Linked DNA regions of Homo sapiens: regions 2, 3 and 4 are each linked to region 1. The links come from fine-mapping of genetic effects on gene expression. A gene starts in region 1. Each other region holds a variant in brackets. All regions are shown on one strand. Distances are between the middles of the regions.

Evidence for each region.
Region 2: its variant is fine-mapped to the expression of FMN2 in lung (TOPMed, PIP above 0.99). The same link has a PIP of 0.9 or more in thyroid.
Region 3: its variant is fine-mapped to the expression of FMN2 in testis (GTEx, PIP above 0.99).
Region 4: its variant is fine-mapped to the expression of FMN2 in lung (TOPMed, PIP 0.96).

The regions. Positions count from the first base shown.
Region 1 is chr1:240,089,744-240,094,999 of GRCh38, reverse strand. It overlaps FMN2 (formin 2), which reads right to left and starts at 3,117. Exons shown (of 18, transcript NM_020066.5): 1 at 1,276-3,117. The coding sequence starts at 2,890.
Region 2 is chr1:240,415,700-240,420,955 of GRCh38, reverse strand. All of the region lies in intron 15 of FMN2 (formin 2), which reads right to left. Among named protein-coding and RNA genes, the nearest start is that of GREM2, 190 kb to the left of the region's middle. The variant T/C (reference allele first, on the strand shown) is at 2,078.
Region 3 is chr1:240,110,605-240,115,860 of GRCh38, reverse strand. The region is part of intron 1 of FMN2 (formin 2); the gene reads right to left. Among named protein-coding and RNA genes, the nearest start is that of FMN2, 21 kb to the right of the region's middle. The variant A/T (reference allele first, on the strand shown) is at 3,081.
Region 4 is chr1:240,183,995-240,189,250 of GRCh38, reverse strand. FMN2 (formin 2) reads right to left here. Exons shown (of 18, transcript NM_020066.5): 4 at 989-1,044. Among named protein-coding and RNA genes, the nearest start is that of FMN2, 95 kb to the right of the region's middle. The variant T/A (reference allele first, on the strand shown) is at 2,374.

The sequences.
Region 1 (5,256 bases):
TAAGAGTATGTGAAATGAATGGAAGAAGCTACTTTTAAGGGTAAGACCCTATAAGGGCAAAATAAAAGGTGGCCCACAGATGAAAATTAAAATGTGGTCAATAAAAGTAGCTACCCCAATATTACCAGCATTTAGTCAACTAAGAAGTCGCTGTCTGTGCCGAGAAATTTCATCTAAGCAATGTTTTACAGATAATGTATTTATTAAAATAATAGAACATAAGATTTTAAAATTTTCAGATTGCATTTGAAATGTTTAATCCTTCAAATATTTATCATAAACCTATCAGTAGTCATGTAACTTTTCATATTTTTCGATTCATTAAATTCTAACACTCTATTTCATTTAATAATTAAGAATAGAGGTTAGGTAAACATGTTGGGCTCTTAAGGTAAGGCCTTGGGCCCTGTAAGCCTGTAAGCTAGGATAAACTCATTGGACTGCTTGACACTGACCAGAGCAAACATACTCTGGCTGTGCTTTATGCCGCCCTGGGTATGAGTCTATAACATATGCTAGGGAGGGGAGGTACCAGTTGGACTAGACGTGCTTTTGACCTTTCCACCTTCACTGTCTCCAAACTACAGGCTGTTCTGGGCTGGACCATGAAACTGAATGAAAATTATCCCTACTATTCTATTTATTTATTAATTTTCTAATAGCATGTATCGGATTTTCTTGCAGCAGCAAACAGCAGTGAGTGACCGCTTAACTTCACTAAGCAGCGGAACCCAGACTGCTGCAAGATAGAAACTACATATCACATACATACCAAACGTGGACAAATACACACAGCTATGAGAGCGGTCAGAGACTGCCTTTGGATCGTACCGGAATAAATGATTTGTGCCTCCAAAACCGACTCTTGCGAAAGAACCATGAACAATTTTTTTTCTTTTTAATGCTGTGGTGATGAAAAATGAAAGAGAAGAATGATGGTTTAGCTAACGAGACGAAAAAGGAGTTTATCTCCCTGGCGTGACCCGAAACTTTGTGAATAGCAGGTATTTTGGTGAAATGGGCAGAGCAACTTAGGACAGACACAACTAAGTTGTTCCCTTTAAGATCTTGTAAGAACACAGAAAACCAACAAGTATGTCCAAGTCATTTCACCGTGGGGGGTGAGCTCGCTGGGCGGAAAAGGATTCCCTACGGAGAAGAGATGTGCCACTACCAGGTCACCGCCTTCCAGAGCCCAGGGAGGGCGGGTGGCAGGGGAAGGCCCTGACTGACAGGCGACTTGAGACCCGGAGGCCAGCAGCAGGGCGCGCTCACCTGTGAACACGTTCTGGAAGCCATCCGCAGCCGCGGGGGCCCCAGACGCCTTGGCGGCCAGTGCTGGGGACACCCCACCGCCGCTGTCACTCGCCACCCCGCGCTCCAGCAGGTGCGCGGAGCCTCCCACCCGGGGCGTGCGGGCGCCTAGCTCCTCCGTCCAGTCAGCCGAGCGGCTCAGGCCGGCCGCAAGGCCGCCGTCGGCCCGGTGCTTCTTGGCCGGGGCGGCTACGGAGGCCAGGGCAGTTCTGGACCCTCGGCTCAGGGAGGGTTCCGGCCGCCTCTTGATCCTGGGGCTCTGATTAGGGGACTGAGACGGGGAGTGATTGGGCGAGCTGAGCTGCCGGGTGGTGGTCTTGATGTAGCAGGGGGTGATGAGCGGGTAGGGCTTGAAACAGCGCTGGCTAGGCGCGGGGCTGCCGGGCAGGGAAGCGGCCGCGGGGGCGTCAGGTCCTTGCGCCTCCTCCTCCGGCTCTTCCCCCAGCCTCTGCGGGGCGTCCTCTCCCACCTCCGGGGCCCACTCCTCCCCCGGAGAGCCCCGGGGCGCATCCTCAAAAGCATCCTCCTCACCCTCCTCATCCGTGTCCCCAGCCCCTCGCACGGGGGCTCCGGCCGCTTCCTCCCCCGGCCCGGCCTCGGGAAATGGGAAAGCCGTGGAGGAGGGCGAGTCTTTGGCCGCGGGTTGCGCTGCCGGGAGACTGGGCGCCTCGGAGACCGGGAGGCCGCCGGGGGACGGCGGTTGCTGGGGCTCCCGGGGCTCGGCGGCCAGGCTCTCGGGCAGGTCGGAGAGCGCGGACAGCGCCTGCTCGGTGTCCGGACTGCCCGGGGCCTCCCCAGCCCCGCCGCTCGGCCCCAGCAGGAACCGGTCCAGGCCCAGGAAGGCCCCGGGCTGAGGGGAGACGGCAGTGGGGGGCGCTGCAGGCTCCTCGGCGCCCTGGAGCTGCTGCTGCTGCTGCTGTTGCTGGAGCTGGAGCTGGAGCTGCTGCTGCTGCTGCTGCTGCAGGCGGATCGCCTGCTGGATGTCTGAAAGCAAATCCTCTTGCTCCGTAGCCGAATGGAAGCTATAGATGTCCGTGTCCGAGCCCGAGCTGGTCCTTTGTCCATCCTGCGCCCCTGCTGCAGTTTCCACATCCTCGGCGATCGGCCGGCCCCCGACCCTAGCCTCGGCAGGCCCAGGACCCCCTGGACCGGTCACCTCAAAAGGGTCCGCACACTCGGTATCCGACAGGCCGGCCTCGTCCGCCGAGAGGCTGAGGTCTGGAGTCTTGGTGAGCAGGGAGTGAGCGCTGTCCAGCTCCCCGGTCTGCAGGGCCTGGGAATCCAGTACATCTTCGCGGGAGCCGCCGGCGCCTTTCCCCTTGGACAGATTCTTCCTGATCCGCAGGTTGGAAAACACCGAGGCTCTGGAGTCGGACTTGCTCTTCTTCTTGCCCGACTCCCCGCCGCCGCCGCCGCCCCCTCCCCCCTTGCCGTGCTTGCCTAGCGCCTTCTTGCCCCCGCTCCCCTTCTTTGTGGCTTCCACATCCCTGGGCCCCAGCGCATCCTCGGCGCCACCGCCGCCTTCGTGCAAAGCATCACCTGCGCTCCTCTTCAGCTTCCCATCCTGGTTCCCCATGGTGCAATCCCGCTGCTGCGCCGCCGCGCCGCGGGCACTCAGGCCATCCCGGCCCTCCTCGGCCCCAGGTCCGGGCCTAGGGAGTCTCCCGGGAGAGTCAGGCGGCGGCGGGGGGAGCCGCTGGGAGGGGAGGCCGACGCGCGCCCGGCTGGCCCCGCTCGCATCTGCCGCCGCTTTGCATAATGCGCGGCGGCTCCCGTGGCTGCCGTCGCTGCGGCTGCGGCTGCGGCTAGGGGCCGGCGGGGCGCGAACATGCTCAGTGCAGAGCGCGGCGCCCACCAATGGCTGCGCAGAACGCAGCTCGGGCCTGGCTCCCCGCCCGCCGCCGCCGCCCCCTCTGCCCCCGCGCGGCTCCTCGCTGAACCTGGGCGCGAAAAACGTTTCCTCTATCTCGGGGACTTTAATCTCCACCGTGCGAATCGAATGCATTGTCCCCGACCGAAGAGATCGTCAGCTGGAAGATGCACTCTGATCTTCAAAGCTGCTGGACCTGCCAAGAGAAAAGTTAAATAAAAAAGAAGAAATTTTTACACGGAGAAAAACTGAAGCCCAATTCCAGTTTAGAGGTGCCATCGGGTCACAGCCACATACACAACCCCCTGTCTGCCTCTGCATGGCTGTTCAATAAATATTTGTTGAATGAATGGATTGTTCTGTTTCTTGAATAATTGATCATCTAATTGAACACTGTTAATGTGCTTGAGCATATGGTTTAGGAGAGGTTACTACACATGGTGCTGCTTTTATGTTTCACACACAGACCCTGCTTCTCCAGGAGAGGACATTAGCTGTCATTTATAAAATTGGTTTGTGATTTTTTTGTTGTTGTTGACAGAAGGAGAGGTAGGAGAAGTAGAAAATACTGAGATTAGTGTTGATTAAAATGCTAGTCTCCAAATTCTATGTGTTTACCATATAAATTAAACAGCATTTGTATTCAAAAAGGGTGCATATACGATAACTCCCAGGAGGTCAAACTCATCAATATTAAACATGTCACTATTGTGGCTGCCTATAAAAAGGAAAAAGACAGAAAGGAAACACCCTTGGCACAAACACACAAAATCAGATGTTATGCTATAAACTACCACTTTCCCAAGCAAACCCTTCCAGGCAGACTTCGTCCTGTAAAAGTTTCTTAACGTTCTGGCCACAATATGGGGATAAACATTTTTCCTCATTGAATATTTTGTCATTGTTTTCATTATTTATTAAATTTAGTTACCTATTTTTTAAGAATAGTTTTTTTAAAAAAATATGGATATCTAAAGCTTTAAGCAGTAAACTGAGATTAAAGTGGCATTAATAAGTTTTACAAGTATTTAAGTAAAAGTCATTGATAACCACTTTGAAAATATGGAATAGACATCCAACTTATTAATATTTTCAAAATAACCCAGAGGAGGGAGAAAAGCTATATATTATACTGTGCAACTTAAATGTAGCAAGCAAATGTGTAGTCTTCCTTTGCATATTATGAACCAGCCTTTAAAATTCTTTTTTAAAAAAGGTTGGTCTTGTAAGTCTTTGGTTACTAACCTTTTTCAAACTATGTTTTTAAAAATAAATGTAATTTAAGGGCAGTTAGCCAGTTATCCTTAGGTGGCCCTTTCGAGTAAATGCTTTAGAGAAATCAACTTTAATAACTTTGCCAGGGTTATATCCCAGTCTCCAAGCAATTCCGGAGTACATGAAAAGCCTTTGTTTCACCTCTTTCACAAGACTGCTCTCTCCTTTTTTCTAGAATCTAGGCTCCTCAGAGGGCACAATTTGCCTGCAGCTATTAGAATTTTCTGCTTCTTTGAGTGCTGAGGTACTTTGAATCTTGATTTTTGCTCTTTCTTTAGCAGAACGTCTTTGATTCTGAACTACTGATTTCCTTATTGTTTTCTTCTGTGCTATATTCTAGACGTTCAGAAGACAAAAGAAGGGAAAGAAGGAGGGAGGGAAAGAATTGATGATTTTTTTTCACAGTGACAGTTGTGCAGCAGGTCACAGCTGACAAATCTCTATTGCATGCAAAGGCTCATTTGAAATTCACAAGTGTGGGTATCAAATACACATAGGTGCTCTTAACTCAAGGATAATTGAAGCATGAGCTCAGGCTCAGAGAGGCTAAGAGATTTGTCCAAGATCACATAGCAGCAGAAAGAATACTGGAACCTGCAAATTTAGACCACAATTTTTTTATAACATAAAACACTGCATAGTTTACTCTTGGGGGACCGGTAAGGATATCATAAAGGCAAACTACAAAGCTTTGCCAAAGGGTTCTTGTTATTTAATAGCTATTTAGTATTCCTAAGGATGCCTGAAACATGGCCTAACCTTAATTCCATTTGATCAGGTAAGAATATCATATCTGT
Region 2 (5,256 bases), 330 kb before region 1:
CTGCATCAGGTCTAACAGCTGTCCCAGCTTCCTCTGGCTCCCTTCCTGTTTTTCCAAATAAATCCAATCTTGGCACTTGCTTTTTGTAGAACCTGAACTAACAGCAGGAGCACAAGTAGTCTGCGAGAACCGGGACTGAGATGGAGTTCTGGGACAGGTTCTCTTACCGGCCCCCTGTCCTGTGTGGGAATGTGGGGCATGGGCAGTCTCTGGCACACGGTGGCTATGTGATTGCTGAAGACATCACTAGAGCTAATCTGATAAAATATCCTGGTGTCCACACCAGCTGTGACGGCATCCACACCAGCACATTTTATCAGGTTAGCTCAGGTGATATCTTTAGTAAAAATGTCCTGGTGTGAACACCATCACACCTTGCAACAAATGGCCCGCCCCCTCAGAAGCTACCAGCTCTTCTCTTGGCTGCAGGACAATAGGACAACAATTAAGGAGACATCCCTGGAAGACCCAGCTAGGGAAGTGCTAGGCCTGAAAAGGGGTAAGAGATCATATATGGAAGGTGATGCAAGAATTAGCTACCATGTAGTGGAGCGATTCAGGAAGAGGCTCTTCTCTTATAGGTCTCTTCTGAGTGATAGCCAATTTAAAGAGGAGTAGGTGTGCTGGGGTTGCCCTGGCAGATGGAAGAGGAAGGAATGTGGAAGCTGAGAGAAGTAGGCACACCAGCATGCATTGTGTGAGTCCAGAAAAACTGAGCAAAGGATTATCCATGGAAGTTCCCAGAGGCCCCACCCAGAGGCCATAAAGAATGCATCAGGAAGAGGGGTATCAGCATCACTGAACAGTGCAGTTGGAGCTCTTCTCTGTAGGAAGAGGTTGCAGAGCTGGGCTCATTAAAATCCACTGGGATGATAGGATCCTAAATAATAGGGTCCAAGTGGTAAAGCTCAATGACCAGAAGCCCGGGTACCACAATTACCATAATAACCAAAAAGCCAAGGGGCAGCCAAGGAGGCCTGACTCTCAGCGGATTGTGGAGATGGTTAGTGGAGCATAGCATCCTTAGGGGCAAATGACAAGTGTGCTGCTCAACCTCTATGACCACAGAAAAGGGCAAGAGTGGGAAAACAGGAGGCTACAGGTGGCTGCTCTATAGAAAATCATGATTCCTTGATCAGTTCCCAGAACTGAGCCAATTTCAGATCCAGGACCCCCTGACCAAAGGAATTGCATCCCTGTGAGGAAGGACCCTGAAACATGGTAGCAAGGATACACTGTAATGTTTCCCCTAGTCCTTCTACAAAGAAACCTGCAGCCATCACTCAGTAGACTGTATAGTGCAAAAGGGAAATACTCAGATGTCTCGAGGGCCACAGGACACAGGGTCTGAGGAGACACTGATTTCCAGAGACCCACAGCTTCCACATGGCCACTTCCATTACTGCGGGAGCTTACACGGTCAGAAGTAATGGAATCCTGGCAAAAGTACAGCTTGTAGTGGTCAATCACCCACTCTGGGTACACAACTGGGATTGATGCCCTCAGGTGTTTGAGGAATAACCCTCACACTTTTTTTTTTGCCCATAAGGACACAGAAAGGTTGAAAGTAAAATTGTGGAGGTGCTATGACAAATGCGAACCAAAAAGAGCTGATATGTACCAATATTAACATAAGGCAAAGTACAAATTTAGGCAAAAAGCATTACCAGAAAAGAGATAGCACTGAAAACAAGATTAGGTTAACCAGGAAGATGAAAAACTCTAGATATGTAGGCATAAAACGAAAGCATTTGAAAATACACAGGGTAAAAATGTCAGAAGTGTAAGGAGTAACTGACATATCTGCCTGTAAGTCTTTTTATTTATATTTATATTTTTTATTTTTTGAGATGGAGTTTTGCTCTTGTTGCCCAGGCTGGAGTGCAGTGGCACGATCTCGGCTCACTGCAACCTCCGCCTCGCGGGATCAAGCAGTTCTCCTGCCTCAGCCTCCCAAGTAGCTGGGATTACAGGCGCCCACCACCATGTCCAGCTAATTTTTTGTATTTTTAGTAGAGACGGGGTTTCATGATGTTGGCCAGGCTGGTCTCGAACTCCTGACCTCAGGTGATCCACC[T/C]GCCTCGGCCTCCCAAAGTGCTGGAATTACAGGCGTGAGCCACCATGCACAGCTATAAGTCTTTACTATACACTCTTGGTAACTGACAGAGAGAAGCTGACAAAATCAGGAAAGATACTGAATATTTAAGAGTCAGTTTAAAATAATAAAATAGAACACTACATCCAACACTGGAACACTGTGTATACTTATACACGTTGGCCATCTTTTGGACCATACAGCAAATCTCAAAAAATGCAAAGAATTATTCTTATGCAGACAGTCTTCTTTTATGTAACCTTTATGTAATTAAGAAAGAAATGGAACTTCGAAAATCCCTTAAGTTTGGAAACTTAAAAACACACTACTAAGTTAATAGCAATAAATAAAAATACATCAACAATAGGCTGGGCGTGGTGGCTCACGCCTGTAATCCCTGCACTTTGGGAGGCTGAGGTGAGGGGATCACGAGGTCAGGAGTTCGAGACCAGCCTGGCCAATATGGTGAAATCCCGTCTCTACTAAAAATACAAAAATTAGCCGGGCGTGGTGGTGGGCGCCTGTAGTCCCAGCTACTTGGGAGGCTGAGGCAGAATCACTTGAACCCGGGAGGTGGAGGTTGCAGTGAGCTGAGATTGTGCCACTGCATTCCAGCCTGGGCGACAGAGTGAGACTCCATCTCAAAAAAAAAAAAAAAATCATAATAAATATAAAAGAATTTAAAACAACTATTAAACAAAGTCTATCAGATTGAATATCAAAATAAAAATTCAGATAAAATAAATACTGCTTACAAATGACATGTCTTAATCACTATAGCCCAGAAAAGTAAAAATAAATAGATGGACAATATATGCCAGGAAAATGTGAAAAGAAAGCGTGATGAAGCATTAATCAATAGAGGATTATAAGGTGAAGTGTATTAATGACAATAAAAAAGGACATTGTATAATGATTAAAAAAGAACATTCCATCAGGATGATAAGAACCATATAGAGTATATTGTCTGAAAACGTCATGGAATTGAAAGATGAAACAAACATTCACAATTATAGCAGAAGATTCTACAAATTAGTAATGATGTAGATGTGAAATTTACGATAAATAAATTTTATTTTAAAATATGCTGTATTTCACTTATTTAGCAGGTCATGGATTTTAAAAATAATATTTTATGTACCACTAAGAAAGACAAATAGTCCAATATGAAGAGTCTTAATAGAGGAGTTGCTCCCATATGCAAACCATAAACTGAGATACCAAAGGACTCACGTAAAAGAAAATGAGAAAGAAATTCCCATGCTGAAAGGGACAGTAAGGAAACTTGTTTCAACTCTGGCACTGGGCAAACAGATGACACCAAAAAAAGTTCCCTTGCAAATATGACTCATAAGCCAGACAGAAATCATGCAGGTTTTCCATCTGAATTCACAGTACCAGGCCCTATAAAAACAAAACAAAACAAAACCCTCTCAAGCTAAAGCAGGGAATTTAATTAAAGTAGCTTCACATTGATAGTGTCCTCAGTTGAATGGCACACACAAATCCAAATCCTCTCTGGAAGAAGCTGACTTTAAATCGAGCCCACATCGATTATAAGATGCCATCCACTGTAAGACGTACCCCAGTCTCAGAGATGTTAAAGGGTGAGAAAATATGCGGATGAGAATATATATCATAGAATCACACACAGGGCAAACTGATTCTTCTCAAGGACATACAAATATTTACTAAGACAGGTTCCATACTAGATCCCAAACTAAGTGTAATACAATTTACTGTAAATCAATAGGAAAATAATTACCAGCAAAGCAAACACACAAAACCCATGCATTTGAAACAGACACAACGAATATACACATAAGTAACTCATCAGCTAAAGAGAAAATAACAAAGTTATAACTGAACAACAATAAAATCTATTCTACATTTAAAAACTAGTGGGATATTGTTAAAGTGAACTTAATGGCAAAGCTAGAGCTCTGAGTATATGATTTTAAAAAAAGAAAAATTAAAAATAAATGAACTATTCATACAACGGACAAAGCCAGGAGAGACAGGATGCAGAAATAAGAGAATATTAAAGAGCAGAAATTTGTGAAATAGAAAGCCAATTAAAAAAACAACTTAAAAAAAAAAAGAAGAGAGAGATAATCAACAAATCAAAATTTCTGGTTCTTTCAAAGACCAATAAAATAGAGAAACATCCTAAAAGACTGGCTACAAAATCAGAAAATGAGGCAAGATTAAATAACATAAATATCAACAAGGGACATAAGTACAGATGGAATGAGGAGGAGAAGATTGGCTACAAAGAATGGAAAGGGAGGCTGGGCGCATGGTGGCTCACGCCTGTAATCCCAGCACTTTGGGAGGCTGAGGTGGGAGGATCACTTGAAGCCAGGAGTTTGAGACTAGCCGGGCCAACATGGCGAAACCCCGTCTCTACTAAAAATATAAAAATTAGCCAGTGTCTAATTTTTGGTGGTGGCACGTCTGTAGTCCCAGTTACTTGGGAGGCTGAGGCACGAGAATCGCTTGAACCCAGGAGGTGGAGGTTGCAGTGAGCTAAGATTGCACCACTGCACTGCAGTCTGGGTGACAGAGCAAGACTCCGTCTCAAAAAAAAAAAAAAAAGAGTGGAAAGGGAATGTACAGGCAAGGAATTGCTTTTTGTTTCTTTCTTAAGTCGTTATTTTATGATAATAAAGTAAATGTATTAATGGCTAGAAGGGAGAAGTTGAAATCAGGAGAGAGAAGTATCCAGATGAGATACTGATGGGAGGAGTTACTTCCCCCAGGCTGGTGGTAGAAAAGGAGACTGATGTGTGCAGGAGTAGTTTCACATACAGAAAGAGGAAGGGGCTCTGGTCTGGTGGATTTACTCTGTGAATTTAGGGCTGGGCAGGAAAATTGAGACAGAAAAGCAAAGAGGGAGAATAGAAGCTGAAGGAGGCTGGAGAAGCTGTGAAATGAAAATAACTGGGGGAAAGGTATCTTCCAAAACGAATATATCTAACATTGTTGTATTCTCATCGAAGCTGGCAGTGTTTCCAGGACAGGGATGTATCTTAATAAACTTTGCAGCTCTTATAGCAGCTATCACATCCTTACTCATATGAATCACTCGGTAAATACTTACTGCATTGCACTGCAAACTTCAGGCCTACTTCTAATTAAATGCTTATCATTACTACCTT
Region 3 (5,256 bases), 21 kb before region 1:
AATAGCCAGTCAGAAGCCCTCAGGGCTGCTCCGCCTATGGGGTAGCCACCCTTTTATTCTTTTACTTTCTTAATAAACTTGCTTTCCCTTTGCTCTGTGGTTCCCTCTTGAATTGCTTCCTGAGGGAAGCCAAGAACCCATGTTTTCTCCCAGGCAGAACCCCAGTTTTGGGGTTGGCTCTGTGACAAGACTGTATTGTAATAGCAGGAGGACTGGGGAAAAAGATGAGAATTCAAAGAACCACCAAACCAGCAGGTTTACCAGTTTTGTTCCTCCAGTGTCCCTCAACCTGAACTCAAGGTATCCCAAAACCCAGAAGTGGGCATCAGCACCGACAAGGAAAGCTTTAAGGGGCAATTTGGCAATGTGTGTCAGTGATCTTTAAAAATTCACCCCTTTGACCCAGAAATTCAACTTTATAAAAGCTATTCTAGGTAAATATTCAGAGGTATCCTCAGAGTGATGCATCATGGGAGTATTATGATGACTAAATGAGATAATGCATGTCAAGTATTTATCACAGTTCCTGGTACTATAACAAATAGATTATTAATAGTACCAAAATTCAAAGGAACTAAAATGTCCAACAATACAGACATAAATAAAAAAAGATAGCTTTATACACATGACTGCTAACTATACAGCCATTAAAAGCCATGCTATTACAGAAAGAATAATCACTTAATTGATTTAAACATATTAAATATATTTAAAGAAACCAGAAAAATAAAACATCAGCTATCACTGAAGAATGCTAGGGCACTGATAACAGAATAGGAAATAATGAGGCATTTATGCTGCCTTTCTAGAAAGAACTGTATTTCAGGGTAACAACCATACCTAGTGAATAAAGTCTTCAATACAGAAAAATTCCAGCCAAAATGTGCAAAAGGAATGATAGAATTGGCCGGGCGCGGTGGCTCACGCCTGTAATCCCAGCACTTTGGGAGGCCGAGGTGGGCAGATCACAAGGTCAAGAGATCGAGACCATCCTGGCCAACATGGTGAAACCCCATCTCTACTAAAAATACAAAAATTAGCTGGGCATGGTGGAGCATGCCTGTAGTTCCAGCTGCTCTGGAAGTTGAGGCAGGAGAATCACCTGAACTTGGGAAGCGGAGGTTGCAGTGAGCTGAAATCTCGCCATTGCACTCCAGTCTGGCGACAGAGTGTGAGACTCTGTCTCAAAAAAAAAAAAAAAAAAGAAATGATATAATTAGAAAATCACCATTTTGCAATCCCTAATGAAATAATGGGTTCACTTAAAGAACAGCAAGTGGATGGAAAATCCATTAGAGAAAAGGTCAATTGAAACTCTTGCAAAGAAAGGATCAAGCTGTCAGCCCCAAACCCAGGGATCATTCACAGCTTCAGGACAACTGAGAAAGCCAGACATGGTGGGCCCCTGCTGGGGGTGATCATAAAGTACACAGCATCCCCCATCGAGCTTTCCTGCTGTCCCCCAGCCTCTGGAACAAAAGAAAGGAGAACTCAGCATGAACCAATTCAACTGTCAGATTGCACCTAGCATCCATTCTAGAGTATCAGAGAGTTCTGAGGATGGACTAGTTACCAGGTAATATTGAACAACTTACTCTATTTGCTTTCAATATAAAGAATGACATTGTAGCATACTTTAAAAGTCCATTTTTGAGATACATATTTGATATTAAAATAACATGATGTCTGGAGCTTGTTTTAAATTATTTCACAAAAAAGTAGGTGGCATGGGGTAGAAGTGGAAAAAAAGGGTTGATAAAACTATTATGGCATTGAAAATATTGATGATTACTGAAGCTGAGTAATGGATTCATGGGAATTCATTGTAATTCTCTGAGTGTGTATATTCCACTTTCACAATAAAATATCTTAAATCACACTATTAAAAACATTTACTTACACAGAAATATGTGACACAAAAATCATGTGAAAATTCAAGATCACAAAACTAAACAAAGCATGTTCCTGATTTTGCAAAACCAAGAGATACGAACACAGTTTATTAAAGAGTCAAAATCGCTGTGGTGGGAAGGCAAACAGTTTTTGTTATTTCCAGGACACACACTCCAGCTGGACTATACTGAACTCCTTTTCTGTTCAAGGAATGTAATTTGACCAACCAGGTCAGGGGGAGTGGACAGAGACATGAACTTTTATTTCTCTTCCTGCATTTGATAATTGAGAATTTAATCAGGAGACACTCACCTACTAAATAGGATTAGGATGCCTTGAATCTAAACTAGGGAGAATGGACTGCCCTGAAGCCTTAAACACAACCTTATTTTTTTTTTTTTTTTTTTTTTGAGACGGAGTCTTGCTCTGTCCCCCAGGCTGGAGTGCAGTGTCGTGATCTCGGCTCACTGCGACCTCTGCCTCCCCGGTTCAAGCGATTCTCCTGCCTCCCGAGTAGCTGGGACCATAGGCGTGTGCCACTATGCCTGGCCAATTTTTGTATTTTTAGTAGAGATGGGGTTTCACCATGTTAGCCAGGATGGTCTCGATCTCCTGACCTCAGGCAATCCGCCCACCTCGGCCTCCCAAAGTGCTGGGATTACAGGTGCGCACCACCGTGCCCGGCCACAATCTTACTTCTTAACTGTGCAAACTGGCTGGCTGGGGCCAGGAACCAGAGGCTTCCCGGTTCCCTCTGACACGGGCTTTCACACCCCATGACCACAGTATCCCCCAGTCAAGGTATCCCCCAGTCCCCTCACTCTACTCCTTGGTCAAATCACTGTTCCTAGACAGACATGTCAACCACACCAATAAATGAAAATCATTGGCCCTAGAGTAATTTTAACTTTTTCAAGTGTCCAGCTATTCAAGCCTGCATTTTACTTCATATTTGCTTACGTTTATTTATTCAACCATATTTCCTGAGCTCCTACTCTTTGCAAAACAGCACTAAGTCAATTTGCCAAAAATCTATCTGCTGAATGAACAGCTCACAAAACACTGCCTGTGGGCAGCAGCCATTTCACAGCAGGAGCTGGTGCCAGCTAGAAGGTCAGTCCCTAGGGCCCGGACCACAGGGTCAGCCAGGGAGGCCTTCAGAAGCACACACTGTCCCAGGGTCACTT[A/T]TCAGGAAAACGCAAGTGCAATCCCCATAAAGGAAGAGTTAGGCTCTGACACTGCCTAGAGAACACACCCCCAGCAGGTGCAGCAACACTGCAAGTGGAGAAAATTCTCAAAAGCTGATAAAATCATCTCTATAGCACAGATTGCTATAAACTTTATAAGTATATAAATGCTAGTTTCTGAGAAATTTATAACTCTATAAAGATAAGGGCAGGAGACGGGCAAAGTTTCTTGGGCTCTTTCTGCTCCCTTTCCTCCCTCCACCCAAATAAAAGACTCAGTGGGAGGGGCCATCTTCCTGTCCTTCAAACCCAGCCTCTAATATCATTTTCTGAACTAGAAAATGCAGGCCTGTCCAGATGCAGTGGCTCACGCCTGTAATCCCAGCACTTTGGGAGGCCGAGGCAGGCAGATCATGAGGTCAAGAGATCGAGACCAACCTGGCCAACAGGGTGAAACCCGGTCTCTACTAAAAATACAAAAATTAGCTGGGTGTGGTGGTGCGTGCCTGTAGTCCCAGCTACTCGGGAGGCTGAGGCAGGAGGCGCACTTGAACCCAGGAGGTGGAGGTTGCAGTGAGCCGAGATCACACCACTGCACTCTAGCTGGTGACAGAGTGAGACTCCGTCTCAAAAAAAAAAAAAAAAGAAAATGCAGGCCTAAGGATGTTAGGTGTCTTGTCAAAGGTCACGTTATCTTTATCTAGGAAAGGCCCATGTCATTGATCACACATATTACATATTATATACCTAATTATGCAGAACTGAAGAAATCTAGAATAGTATAACCATGAAGAATTCTCTCATTCTTTTATAGGATGGAAAGTGTTCCTTATTTTCTGCCTATTCCTTTCCCCTGAAAACACGTGGACTCTGTACCTTGACTTCATGAAGTACACCCATGTGGGGAGGCATGGGATTGCAGCCATAGCTTAAGCAACAGAAGCTACTTCCTGGATCTCAATCCCGATGTCAGAGGCGTTTGAACCAGAGTGACTCCATCTTGAATAGAGGCTGGGTAAAATGAGACCGAGACCTACTGGGATGCATTCCCAGGAGGTTAAGAAATTCTTAGTCACAGGATGAGTAGGAGGTCAGCACAAGATACAGGTCATAAAGACCTTGCTGATAAGGCTGATAAGACAGATTGCAGTAAAGAAGCCGGCTAAAACCCACTAAAACCAAGACGGTGACCAGAGTGACCTCTGGTCATCCTCATGTTACACTCCCACCAGTGCCATGACAGTTTACAGATGCCATGGCAACATCAGGGAGTTCCCCTATATGGTCAAAGAAGGGGAGGCATGGATAATTCACCCCTTGTTTAGCATATCATCAAGAAATAACCATAAAAATGGGCAACCAGCAGCCCTCGGGGCTGCTCTGTCTATGGAGTAGCCTTTCTTTATTCCTTTACTTTCTTAATAAAGTTGCTTTCACTTTACTCTAAGGACTTGCCCTGAATTCTTTCTCGTACAAGATCCAAGAACCCTCTCTTAGGGTCTGGATTGGGACCCCTTTCCGATAACACTGATGCCTCCATTATGCTAGGTATGGCCTTAGACAGGTTACATAACCCCTGGTAATCCTGTTTCCTCATCTAGAAATTGGAAATAATCATCCTCATTACCTCCGAGGATTACTGTGAAAATTAAATGAAACAATTTTTGTAACAGGCTTAACAGTACCCAATAAATGTTACCTGTTATTATTATGATCAAGATATACTTCAAATACTCTCTACTTGTAAATGTGATTAAAAATGTTGGTTCAACTTAAAAGAAGGAAATCATAAGTTGGATCTAAAAGCATTTGAAATAGTACGGTAATAGGCAAGGTAATCACAGATTCAAATATCTTCATCCACCAAGTTTTGGGTTTTTTTCCTTAAATTTAGTAGATTTTAACAACAAGGTAATATTTAAGACACTGCTTGCTAGAATTCCTAGCCTCAATTTTTTTTAAAAAAAAGGGCTTGCATATTTGTTTTACTATATTTATTAAATTCACATCAAAAATAATATTCATTAAATGAGAGTCGGGGACTTATTAATCATTAATGTTCTCCAATTATTGCTGTACTAATCCCCTCACGCTCTTCCCACATATTCTTCCACACTGTAGCTAATCAAAAGTGAAGCTTGTAGAATCAGCTTTGCAGTCATACACTAGCTATAAA
Region 4 (5,256 bases), 94 kb before region 1:
TTTATATCCAAAAGAGCAATTGCTATCCACAATTACTATTCCATACACGTTTCCTTTCTTGCAGTTTTTTTTTTTTAATAAGAAATCCATTTTAGCATAGCTTGCATTTTAGCGTAAGAAAAAAAAACCCACAAAATTTGGCTTCTTTGGTAACTGATATGGTTTGGCTCTGTGTCCCCAGCCAAATCTCATCTTGTAGCTCCCATAATTCCCACATGTTGTGGGAGGGACCTGGTGGGAGATGACTGAATCATGGGGGCTGATCTTTCCCATGCTCTTCTCATGATAGTGAATGGGTCTCACGAGATCTAATGGTTTTAAAAATGGGAGTTTCTCTGCACAAGCTCTTTTTTGCCTTCTGCCATCCACATAAGATGTGATTTGCTTCTCCTTGCCTTCCACCATGAACTTGTGAGGCCTCCCCAGCCATGTGGAAGTGTAAGTCCAATAAGCCTCTTTCTTTTGTAAATTGCCCATTCTTGGGTACACCCTTATCAGCAGTGTGAAAACGGACTAATACAGTAACAGAAAAAAAATAGTTTCCTGGAAATTAAACAGATACTAATTAATGTTTCATCCACCAAAGTAATAAGAACCTTATTTGACTTTAGCAAAGCTCTGACAGATTTCTTTTTAAAGATCATAGCCATGGGACTGTTTGAGCAGGCACATCTCGCAGACTTCTCCCTGGAGTGGCCACCGTTTCCTGCTGGAGCCCGCTGTTATTGGGCCCAACTCTTTGGCTGGATATAGAATAAAACAGCTTCTGAAAAGCTTGTACTCAGTTCCATTTCAAGGCTGATTTTGTATGCAAAAAATAAATGGAAGAAAACATCCCCTTCTGCCTGACTGGATTCCACTGCAGGCTTAGGGAAAACAAGGGCATCCTAGCCAGCCGGGCAGATGGAAAGATAAATCGCAGAGTCTGTCACAATCTTAAGACAAATAAGACAGATGGGAATCTGACATCCTAATAAGATCATCTTACCTTCTGGACAGCATCTGAGCGTTTTTGGGGAGTTTCTGAAACAGCAGATTGAGATTCTAGATTGGAAAGGAAGCAGACAGTCAGTATCTTAAAGGACAATTTTCCTATTTCTTCAATCAGAAAATAAAACTTTCACTAAAATATATCATTAACCATAAGTACCAAAAAATATCCAGTCTCTCTTCCAATTATATAACTGGGTTATTAGGATATGACTACTTTTCAATATATATAATACATACAATGAGAATGCTCATGTCATTTTTAAAAATTGGGATATTCCTATGCCCTTCTCTATATATCAACTATCCTTATTTGTCTCGATTGCTAGTTTCTAAATTGTGCCAGAAAGTCCTTCTAAGACTTTCACAGATTATATTATTCACTTAGCTGAAGTCTGTATCACGATAGAAGCCACTTCACCAAGGTTGAAGGATGGGAGCTCAAAAGCCTCATCTAACTGTTGTCAAATTGCCCCTTGATTTCAACAAGAGATAACGAACACTGTCACCAAGAGACACTGAGTAAGAAGGGATTCTGAAGCAGTTTTTCTCTTTTAGTCCTCATGTCATCTGAGATTCTATGAGACTGCAAATTCATCATTCTAAAAAGACCTAAGGCATAACCAAGTCAGGGATTTCTTTTCGTAAGCGAGAGGGCACTTTCTTCTAAGTGAAGCTTGTGTGCAAATTTAAAAATAAAAGGGCCTTTAGGATAAAAATAAAAATGAAAGGGCCTTCAAGGAATTCCTCATGCTCCATGAATCAGAGCCTGAAAAACCACTAATCTCATCCATCCTCTGCACCTTTCAGATGAGAAATTCAAAGCCCATAATGCAAGTGGTTGTTGGCAAGGTGAAGACGAGAGTTTATATCTCCTGACTGTCGCGTTGCACCCCTGACTGGCATGCAGACCAGACCCTGGACACAAGGTACAGCAGTCACTGTTTTTGGTTTTGTTTTTTTCTTTTCTTTTTTTTTTTTTTTTTTTTTTGAGATGGAGTTTCGCTCTTTCACCCAGGCTGGAGTGCAACGGCGCGATCTTGGCTCACTGCAACCTCCGCCTCCTGGGTTCAAGCGATTCTCCTGCCTCAGCCTCCCGAATAGCTGGGATTATAGGCACCCGCCACCACACCCAGCTAATTTTTTTTTTTTTTTTTTGGTACAGACGGGGTTTCACCATGTTGGCCAGGCTGGTCTCGAACTCCTGACCTCGTGATCCGCCCGCCTTGGCCTCCCAAAGTGCTGGGATGACAGGCATGAGCCACCGTGCTCGGCCAGCAGTCACTCTTTATGGTCATTTTGACATTTCCAATTTAGCCACATGGTAGCTGATATATGTGACAATGCTACAGAAAAATAAAAGGCATTTAGTATTTAAACAGC[T/A]TAACATACTGTTAAGCTACAATGAAAGTTTTCATTTCACTCAGATGAGAATCTGTCTCCACAGGGACCCACAAGGCCTGGTTTCAACTACTGTTACTCCCTAGCCTCTCTACCCACCTCCATCTGTCCCAACTTGCTCACCAGGCCAGCCACCCTGGCCAGCTTACTTGTCTTGTCACACACCAGTCATGCTTCTTCCATAGGGCCGCCAAAGCCACAGTGGCTACTGCCTCTGCCCAGAGCACTGCACTCACTCTTCTTCCCAAAATCTGCAAGCCCCACTCTGTGGCTGCTTCCTTCGGGGCTTTGCTCAAGCAGCGACCCCACCCACTCCTTGGCACTCAGCACACACTCACCCTTACTTTCTTCGTAACCTGGATCATCACACCATATACTCCATAATGCATTTGGTTGCCTACTTATTTATACCTCTTATTCCACTAGAACATAAACTCTGTGAAAGCAAGAATTTTTGTCAGTTTTTCCTCTTGTTGTGTCCCCCACATCCAAATAGTGCCTGGTACTTAGTAGGTGCTTAAAATATTTGTTGAGTAATTGTAGGAGTGAATGAAAGAATAAATGAAAGATCAAAACAATGATAAGAACATGAAAGTGGGTTCCACCAGGAAAAGTGGGGTATCCTGGGCAGAGAAAGAGAGAGTAAGGATTTTACAAGAGACAATATAGATATTGCCTTGCCTTTAGCTATTTTCTGAATCTCAGCTAGGAGTATATATTTTAAAACAAAACTCACTGAGAATAGCATGATGCAGTCACTTACCAGTAAGTGTCACAGTGGCAATAAACAACTGGCCTTAAAATACAACCATTTTCCCAGATAAATATAGCATATCATTGAGCTAATCAAAAATGGATTCTTTTCTCTTATATTGACAAATCTCTACTCTGAACTTAACACCAGAGTTAGCCAAATTTTAATAAAGATCTTTAACAGCAAAGCTAGTTAACAGTTAATATTAAAGCAAATCCAAACTCCGGAACGCTCTCATTTTCTATTGTTTTTCGTCACTTCCAAATCCTCCCAAACACAATAGACTCAAGACAAGTCTTGGCTTTGTACCAGTGGGGAAAAGTCTCTCTTCCTCTTCTATTTAGATCGTGCCACAAGAGCCTAAAGGCTCTCCTGGTGGTACACAAAGAGTTCTTTACATTAGAAATGCATAAAATGCTTTCTAGCTTTGTTCTATAGTCCTTGACCCGGTAACTGGACCCAAAAAGTAAACTTCTGGGCTCTGATGGTAAAGAACAAGTGCAGTTTATCAGAAAAACGTACTTAGAAAACCACATTAGAAAGATGCATCAGCAAAATATTCTGCACACCTACACCCAAACTTTCAGCTCCTCTCTGTCTAATTCAATGGCTACCTGAACTGAATTCATTCTCCCAATCCCATCCCTTTCATTATAGTTTTTATTTGTTTGAATCTGTGTGTTAAAACACAGAAGAGAAATTTGCAGGTTGAAATGCTGTCTTCAAAATCATAAGCTGGAAAATAGGAGTTCTAGAGGGTCAAGATTTTAACATGAAAGAGATGTACAGAATAACTTCACTGAAAAATAAAGGGAAAATAAATGAGAACCACTGGGAGAGAAGAGAAAAATACATGATAAGGAAAAAGAAAACAATACAGAATAAAAGAAAGAGAAGGAAAAAGGTATAGGAGGGAGAAAGAGAAGGGGAAAGGTGTAGGAGGGAGAAAGAGAAGGGGAAGGTATAGGAGGGAGAAAGAGAAGGGGGAAGGTATAGGAGGGAGAAAGAGAAGGGGGAAGGTATAGGAGGGAGAAAGAGAAGGGGAAGGTATAGGAGGGAGAAAGAGAAGGGGGAAGGTATAGGAGGGAGAAAGAGAAGGGGAAGGTATAGGAGGGAGAAAGAGAAGGGGAAGGTATAGGAGGGAGAAAGAGAAGGGGAAGGTATAGGAGGGAGAAAGTAAAGGGAACATGAAAAATGGCGAAAGTGTCCTTTAGGGAGCGGAGAGAAATTGATGTACCAGTAATGGCTGAAGAGTGGAGTCACTAGATAGGTGAATCTGAGATATCAGCCTAGTTCCAACTTTCATAGAGCTCCCTAAATGAAAGTGATCACTCCCGGAACTCCCGACTCCCACGTTCCCAACACTCTCCTCCTCCCAGGATCCAGGGCACTTTCAGGAATTGCCTTAAACCCAGCTCTAGGACAGACTGATCATCTCCATCGAATATTCATCACTAGAATGGTTATTATTTTCAAAGACTAACCTGGTGAGAGAGCTCTCAAGGGTACATTTAAAATGGCCACCTCCTTCACCCATCCTTAAAATTAAGAAACCAGAATGTTCTTAAAAAAAAAAAAAAAAAAAAAACAGGCCGGGCGCAATGGCTCACATCTGTAATCCCAGCACTTCGGGAGGCCGAGGCGGGCAGATCACAAGGTCAGGCCAATACGGTGAAACCCCGTCTCTACTAAAAATACAAAAATGAGCCGGCCTGGTGGTGGGCACCTGCAGTCCCAGCTACTCGGGAGGCTGACGCAGGAGAATCGCTTGAACCCGGGAGGCGGAGCTTGCAGTGAGCCGAGATCGCGCCACTGCACTCCAGCCTGGGCGACAGAGCAAGTCTCAAAAAAAAAAAAAAAAAAAAAAAAGGTTAAATATTCCATTTTAAAAAGTTACCTCAAAATTCCGAGCATAATCTAAAATTCTGGACTCCCTATGGACTCCAAATGTTTCAGGACTGACCTCTTTACCATCACAAAATAAGCCTTTCACTCACGAAACAAAACATACTTGGATGAGCTGTGTATTTACAGAGAGAAGACAGTAAGACAATGAGCGGGATATGCCTCTCAGCTAAGAATGGAAAATAAACCTCCCTTTAAAATATACA